3 separate regions of the Homo sapiens genome follow, and all the other regions are linked to region 1. The links come from fine-mapping of genetic effects on gene expression. A gene starts in region 1. Each other region holds a variant in brackets. All regions are shown on one strand. Distances are between the middles of the regions.

What was found. PIP is the estimated chance that this variant, and not a neighbour inherited with it, causes the effect.
Region 2: its variant is the best candidate, but not a certain one, in a credible set for the expression of ST3GAL3 in monocytes after Pam3CSK4 (Quach 2016, PIP 0.73).
Region 3: its variant is the best candidate, but not a certain one, in a credible set for the expression of ST3GAL3 in fibroblasts (GTEx, PIP 0.71).

Annotation. Positions count from the first base shown.
Region 1 is chr1:43,705,840-43,708,683 of GRCh38, forward strand. It overlaps ST3GAL3 (ST3 beta-galactoside alpha-2,3-sialyltransferase 3), which reads left to right and starts at 1,697. Exons shown (of 12, transcript NM_006279.5): 1 at 1,697-1,854. It overlaps KDM4A-AS1 (KDM4A antisense RNA 1), which reads right to left and starts at 1,502. Exons shown (of 5, transcript NR_033827.1): 1 at 1,220-1,502. RefSeq lists enhancers at 1,132-1,649, 1,375-1,454 and silencers at 1,585-2,084, 2,115-2,164.
Region 2 is chr1:43,860,644-43,863,143 of GRCh38, forward strand. The region is part of intron 5 of ST3GAL3 (ST3 beta-galactoside alpha-2,3-sialyltransferase 3); the gene reads left to right. Among named protein-coding and RNA genes, the nearest start is that of MIR6079, 23 kb to the left of the region's middle. The variant G/T (reference allele first, on the strand shown) is at 1,037.
Region 3 is chr1:43,882,793-43,885,292 of GRCh38, forward strand. All of the region lies in intron 5 of ST3GAL3 (ST3 beta-galactoside alpha-2,3-sialyltransferase 3), which reads left to right. Among named protein-coding and RNA genes, the nearest start is that of MIR6079, 45 kb to the left of the region's middle. The variant G/A (reference allele first, on the strand shown) is at 941.

The DNA of each region.
Region 1 (2,844 bases):
ATACATCTTTGTTGAACTGGCCTAAGTTCATGCCAGCATCTGTGCTCTATACAAATTGTGGAACCAGTGGGAAGGATGGGTGCATTTTAGGTGCTTGAAAAGCAAGGGACTCAACCTCCAGTGGGATCCTCAGATTGCTCTCCGAGCTGTCTAGTTGGTGAGAAGCTTCCCTGGAGGAAGACCCAATCTCCTTTGGCTGGTAGATCCCTGAGGTCAAAGTGGACAAGGATGGGGAACCACAGAGCAGGGAGGGGGGCAATGAATAGGTGCAGGACTTGGGTGCCCCGGAGCTGCACCGGCTGGCCCTTAAACAGCCAGGCACTTCCTGTGGCATGGCCCTGTCCAGGTGCAGGAGAGGCTTAGGTCAGTTCAGCTGCTCTGGATGCTTCCTTGTGTCCCTGGGGGTTGAGAGGTGGTTGCTACTTGGTATCTCATTGTGGAGAAAGGGAGGTGCAGGAGGTGATCTTTTCTATGTCAGCTCCCTCCTGGGGCCCAGGGAGGGAAGTTGGCCTTTTTTTTTCTTTGCCCACACTCCACTTGGGGATTCCCAGGGGATGTAGCAAGGGAGGCTGGGCAGAACCAGGCCTTAGTGGATTGGTGAGAGAACACTAATCCATACATCTTTGGAAGAGAGGAACACTTCACCAGCCTTTTTACACAGGATCCCTACCTTTCTCGATGACCCCACTGCCTCCAGGGGTGGGCGCTGGGTTTAATCCCAGCAGTTTTTACTCAACAGCTGACCAGTTTTCCAGAAACTGCACTTTTTTTTTTTGGTCAACCTAATAACTCTTAGGAAACTGCAACTCAGGTGATCCAAATCACACAGACCGGCCCGTTCTCTCCCCTACTGGCTGCCTATGCAGTCGGGTCGACCTCAAGAGAACTGGCCCCAGCCAAAAGCGGCACCTCCCGGCCTGCCAGTCCCTTCCTGCCTTAGGCAGCTCCTCCCAGAAGCCTTTTTGTAGGGCAAACTGCCTTCCCTTTGTAAGGTAGGGCCTTTGGATCCAAGGTTGCAGTTTAAAGACCACCCCGACTTTGTTGAGGAATTAAGTTTTAAATTCCGCCCCAGGCGGATAACACCAGGGCTCAGCCGCAGGAATGAAAAAGGAGTGGGAGGGCTGCAAAGTGTACGTGGGGCTTGGAGGCCTTGTGCCACGCGCGGACTAAAAATGTTCTACGAGTCTCTTAACGCTCACCCCCGTGCCCCCTTACCCACCAGGGCCCACGGAGGTCCGAAGCTTTCGGCCTCAGTGAGCGGAATGGGTGCGCTCACGACCTGGAGGGCGAGATGAGATGTCCCTCGGCGTGAAGTGGCCGTGACTACCCTAGCACTTTGCGTTCCCCGCGCGGGCGACGAAACACGCTCTCGAGGGGAGAGAGCCGTGCGTCCTCTGGGCCGTGAAGCCAGGGGAAGAGGGTTCCTCTAGACAGCTCGATGTGCCCGGGAGAGACACCCACGCTGAACCTGCAAGCTGGGGTGCTCCACCAGCGCGAACCTCTCGCCCCGCACTCGCCGCAGCACTGCTCTCGTGGTAGGCGGGGTGGGCGGGACGGCAAATCCGCGGCTCCTGCGTCTATTGGGCTGCTCGGGGCAGCGCAGCTCCGCATTGGCCAGGCCCTCGCTCCGCCCGGCTTCCGCGAGCCCATTGGTCGCAGGCGCCCGACCGGGTCGCGGCCGCGCGCTCCGCCCGCCGCTGCGTCCCCACTATGGCGGCGCCCATGCAGCCCAGCGCGTTGTGGGCTCCCGCCGGGGTCCCCCGCGGCTGTCGCCGCCGCCTACGCCGCTGCCTCCGCCTTCCTGCCCCGCGTCGGGCCGGGCGCCACCTCCCCCCTGCCTCCCTCTCCGCTGTGGTAAGGGCCTGCCCAGTGCGCTTCGGGGCGCGATGGCTGACCGCGAATAACGGTCGCCGCTCCGCCCCGCCCCTCCCCCGCCGGCCGCGGGTCCCGGGCTGGGCGGGGCGCGGAGCCCGCGCGCTAGTGCCCGGGAAGGCGGGGTCGGGGCACGGCCCAGTCGTCCTTCGGGCTGGGGGCCCAGTACCTGGATGACCTCTCCTGGGTGGGGGCCGCCGAGCCTGGGGGAAAGGCCGGCCGGACGCAGGCCAGGAGGTCTGAGATCATCTCCGTGTGAAACCCCGCAGCGCTGCGCACCTTGGCGCAGAGCACGGACACCGTCATTCGGGCCCTGCTGTGGGAAAAGGAAAGAAAAGTCCAGGGAGCGCCTGAGCGGGAATCGGCAGCGTTTGGGTAGCGGTTGTCATTGCTTACTGCTCTAGCGGGGGCCAGAACTGGGGTCAGTTTGATCGGCAAAGTACGCCTCTCTTGCTTCCTTTCCTTCTGGCACTTTCCCCCGTTGTGTCCTCGGTGCTTTTGCTTGCAAGAGAAAATATCTTAGTGAGGAGGGCAGGTTTGGTTAGGAGAGTGTCCCATGAACATTTTGGATTCCTTTTTACAACAATGTCCATTTTTATGATTCCTCAGTAAGCCTCATTTATGTTTCCTTCACGTATGAGGAAGGAGTGAAACCTGATAACTGAATGTAATTAATTGAGGGAAGGACCAGTGAAGGCGGCTATTACCTCAGAAAGTAAAATACTCAAACTTTTCAGTGGATGTACTGTGAATTATAGATAGCTGGACATTAAGGTAGGAAAAAACTCTTATTAGGTTACTAAAAGTAAGATAGTCCCCATGACAAATTAGGTTGTTTCTAAGGCAGAATTATCTTGTAGAGATGATCACTGAAATGTTTGGTGTACTTTCAAGTCAACAGAGGATTAAAAGGAAGCTGGCACAGAAATTTATAGCCAAATGATACTTTCAAATAATCTCTTAAGGCAATAC
Region 2 (2,500 bases), 150 kb after region 1:
TTCTGCCATGCATCTGGATCCCAAGGGCCATCCTCCATGAGCAGCAGGTCTCTTCCTGTCTAGCCATGAGCCCCTTTCCCTAACCCCTGGAGTGCTAGATGCAGAAAGGGAGGGCAGTGGAGGGATGTAGGCTATGTGGGTTACAGTCACCATGTTCTCCCTAGCCAGAGGTTGATCATTTTTTCCAGCCTGTAACTGGGCCTAATTTCAGACCTTTTCTGAGGGTAGGTTCAGGAAGTAGAAAGCTTTTGAGCTGAGGCAAAAGTGGTCTTACTGTACTTAGACTGTCATCTGTTGGCACTGCGGTGAGGCTGGTCGGAGGACGAGGGGTACATCTTTACCACCTGGCCTCACCGCTGTTTCACCGATCCCTGTGGCTTGACCTTGTGTGCCTGTGCCAGGTTCACAGCATCTCCTTCATGCTTTCTCAGCAAAGATGGAATACAGCTGGGAGCTCCTCTGCCTCCGTCTGGGCAAGTGAAGAGAGCTTAGGTTTTGAAATCAGGCAAACCTGGGTTAGAATCCCAACTTTGCTACTTTGCTAGCTGTATAACCTTGGACAAGCCCTTAGTCATGTTAAACATCAGCCTCCTTATCTGCAAAATGCGAATAACAGCCCCCATCTCATGGGCATTTATGGGGATAACACTAAATAATGTCCATGACATGTGTGTCCTGGTGCCTGGCATGCAGTGAGTGCCTCGTCTGGGGTGGTAAGTGTGGTTCTGTCTTTATGCTCTGACTGCCTCAACTCTCATGGAGACCTTCCAGTAATATGTCTTGGTGTGGAGCTGTCAGGACTTGTATAGACTGCATACAAACCCAGGTGACTGGCATTTGTTGATACAGAAATACTTCCACATATTGGGAAATGTGGCTTTTGGCAACTCCAGCTACACAGGATGCAACCGATGACTCATAACTTATGCTGATGCTTCAATTAATAAATTAAATTAATAATTTAAGCTGATGCTTCCTGGTGCCGTAACCCCTACATGCCAATGCCTTACTAACCCATAGTCTTTTATGCCTTTGT[G/T]CTGTGCCTGCTAGTCCCCCAACCTGGAGTGCTTCTCCATATTCTTTGCCTTAAGAACTACTGCTTTGGCCGGGCACAGTGGCTCACGCCTGTAATCCCGGCACTTTGGGAGGCCAGGGCAGGCGGATCACCTGAAGTCAGGAGTTCGAGACCAGCCTGGTCAACATGGAGAAACCCCGTCTCTACTAAAAATACAAAATTAGCCGGGCGTGTTGGCACATGCATGTAATCCCAGCTACTTGGGAGGCTGAGGCAGGAGAATCGCTTGAACTCGGGAGGCGGAGGTTGCGGTGAGCCAAGATCACGCCATTGTACTCCTGCCTGGGCAACAAGAGCGAAAATCTGTCTTAAAAAAAAAAAAAAAAAAGAGAGACAACTACTGCTTTTACTTCAGTGAGTAACTTGAACGTTGTCTGGCATCAAGCACAGCAGTCTCTGCTGAGAGAACTGCTTGTGGCAGGCCTCTCCCCTCCAAAGGGGCCTGGACAAGGCAGGCACTCAGCTTGGCCAGCTGTCCACATGCATGTGCTGTCTGGAGTGTCTGTCCTCACATTCTCCACCTTTAAAACTCCAGCTCAGATGTCACCTCCTCTGTGAAGCTTTTCCTGCCCTGGAGCTCCCCCAGCTCTGTGTGCACCTCTATCTGTAACAGTTCTGTGTATACCACATTATAATTCCCTCCTGAGACCTTGTCTAATTTTTACCTCTATCTTACCCTCCATCACCACTTGGTGACTGACTAAACTGGGGACAGCTCCCATTTCTCTTGCCTTTATCCTATCACCACACTCCTTGCAGCTGGCTTGGGCTTGGGGAGGGAAATGGAAGCGGCGGGTCCTACTGACCTAGTTGGGTGTTCTGCCATGTCCAGGCCCACTGTGCAGCTGGGCCCAGCACTCTGGGCTTCCTTCCCAGGACCAACACCAGCAGCATCAACAGTGGGCAGAGCCAGGCGCAGTGGCTCACACTTGTAATCCCAACACTTTGGGAGGCTGAGGCGGGAGGATCACTTGAGCCCAGGAGTTTGAAACCAGCCTGGGAAACATAGCGAGACTCTGTCTCTACCAAAAAAAAAAAAAAAAAAAAATTTAATTAGCATAATGGTGTGCACTTGTAGCCCTAGCTATTCAGGAGGCTGAGGCAGGAGGATCGCTTGAGCCAGGGAGGTTGAGGCTACAATGAGCTGTGATCATGCTACTGCACTCCAGCCTGGGTGACCGTGTGAGACCCAGTTTCAAAAAAACAGTGGACAGAGTCTAAAGTGGCTCTAAGGACATATTAAATTCTGGATTATTCTTCCTTCAAAACATTGAGTTTGACGGTCTCCCTCAGTTGACTCAAATAACTGGATATTGCATATCTGTCTGTTCACTCATGTAATACATTTTTATCAAGTGCTGGGCACTGTGTGGGCACTGGGGAAATGGTTTTAAAAAACGCAGGCATGGTCCCAGCTCACTGTCT
Region 3 (2,500 bases), 180 kb after region 1:
TAGTTTGCCTGACCCTGTTCTGGGCTTGCATGGTTTGTATAGGTCACTATCTTAGAGAAAAAAAGAGACTCCCACAGCCCCCAGCGTCCAAATATGAAATCTCAGAGAAGACCATGGTGCATAGCACTTAGGTCAAGTGCCCATTCTTTTATTTATTTATTTATTTATTTATTTATTTATTTATTTAGAGACAGGCTCTCACTCTGTTGCCCAGGCTGGAGTGCAGTGGCAAGATCATAGCTCACTGCAGCCTCGACCCTTCCAGGCTCAAGCGGTCCTCCTGCCTCAGCCTCCCAAGTAACTGGGACTACAGGCGTGCACTACCATGACTGGCTAAATTTTTCAATTTTATTTTTCATAATGACAGGGTCTCAGTGTGTTGCCTAGGCTGGTCTCAAACTCCTAGGTTCAAACAGTTCTCCCACCTCAGCCTTCTAAAGTGCTGGGATTACAGGCATGAGCCACCGTGCCTGGCTAGGTGCCCATTCCTGAGCCACTTAGGAAGGGGTCTCCTGATTGGTCAGCCCAGACATGTGCCCATCCCAGTAGCAGTGGTGGGGATCAGCCGAACCAGGAGCATATGGAATGAAAAGGGGGATGCTATTGTAGAAGACAGGGGAAGAGATGTGGATATCCACTGCAACGTGCCAACAAGAAAGAGCATGAACTGAGTGCCTGAAAGTACCAGTGATGATCCAGCTTGAAATTGGTCCTGACACAGCCTCAGGCACCAGGCCAGCCCTGCAGTGCTGATGCACGCCCTGCCTGGCCTTTTCCTTCTGTGCAGTATTTGCATCTCAGCTGCTTTGTTTACACCTAGTCAGAATGCACTTGCCTGCCCATTCTTCCTCACACATTGCTCCACCTGCCTGGGTGGAACTAGAGGGCAGAGTTACAAGGGTGCGGGGTGGGGAGGGTGCCAGGCTGAAGTTCCTCTGCC[G/A]TTGATGGGGGCTACTTCCCTCCTCCAGCCTCAGCATTCTCTCTCCTTATCTTGAAGGGACAGTTACTTATGGTTCTCTTCTCTTCTGTGCCTTTGTCTTACAACTACCCTTCTGAACATTCTCCACCAGGCTTAACGTTTATTTACTTGTCTTTCAAGGCTTAGCTCAGCTTTGCCATTATCTCCTTTGAGATGTCTTTCCAGTACCCTCAAGTTGGTCAGTGACCTTTGTACCAAAATATAGCATCCTATTCCAGAATATAGAATGTGGACATATATTACATATATTTTCTTATGATTATTTCTCTACCTGTCTCTATCACTAGCTTCTTGAGGAAAGGACCAAGCCTAATTTACTTTTAGGTTCTGAGCTCGTACTCAGCACAGGACCTAGCACTGAGTAGGCAAGCAGTTGTTGGATGGGGCCGTGTTTTCCAGCTCCATCTAGTCCCATGTAAGATACGGAAGCAAGAGCTTCCTGAACAGGCTTGGAATAGTACTTGTTGGTTGGCACCTGATGTTTGTCTCTTTACCTCTGAGCTACCTCTCTCAGGACATATGATGCCCACCTGCTCTTAAACTTACCATCCTTTCTCCTTCGACTCCTGCTCTCCCATAGGACCCATCTCCCATGGAATTCATTCAAGTGGTCAGCAAGGGGAACGCAGCAAGACACATATTTGACAGGGCATTTAGAAAGTGTTCGCATTACTTGCTTAGACATACACCAGGCTCTTCCTGTGCATGGCCCTTTATGGTGGGGCTGCAGCAGCTAGATCCCAAGCAAGACCATGTAGACTCTAGAACACCTATCTCCCTACGTTATGTCTATCCCACCACTACTCAGAGAAGGTTCTAGGAAGGTGGATCTGTGGGATTTGGCTTCATCCTGTTGGATGACAGTCTCACCTTGTGGGAGCCAAGGCCTGTGGTTGAATATAACGGACTGATGTGCTGTGGTCCCTGGTCTAAGAACTCATTGCTGGGCTCTGCCTTCCCTTTGTCTCATGGGCTGCTTGCACTCGTCACAGTCATTGGGAGAAGTGGCTAAAAGGCTGGCCACCCAACCAACCAGGCACAGATGTCAAGCTGAAGCCATCTGTTACCCTAATCCAGCAAACCCATATCTGGAAGCACCTCTTTCAGTTGGGTTGGTAGGAACTAGGAGAAGACCCTACCCTAGATCTGCTGGTGCCCACACATAACTACTCCCTCACCTCACTCCTTAATAAGACCAGTCAGCTTTCTTGCCAGTCTGTGGATACAGGCTTAATATTCCAAGCCTTAGAACATGGTTTAGGTTGATGAGCCAGTGTTGAGGACATTCACCTTATACGCTGCACCTTAGCCACATTTTTGAGCATTAAGTGAGCTGGAAGATCTCTTAGGAGGGCCCCAGGTTGCCCTTCCTGGCTGGTTAGCCTGACCCTTATGCTTAATCATAGTCCTCTTTCAGTCTACAGGTCTGCGAGCAGGGCAGCCTCCTGGCTCCTGAGGTTCCATCTATGCTGTGAGAGACACAGGGGTCAGATCCACACTCAGCATGTACTCTCCCAGGGC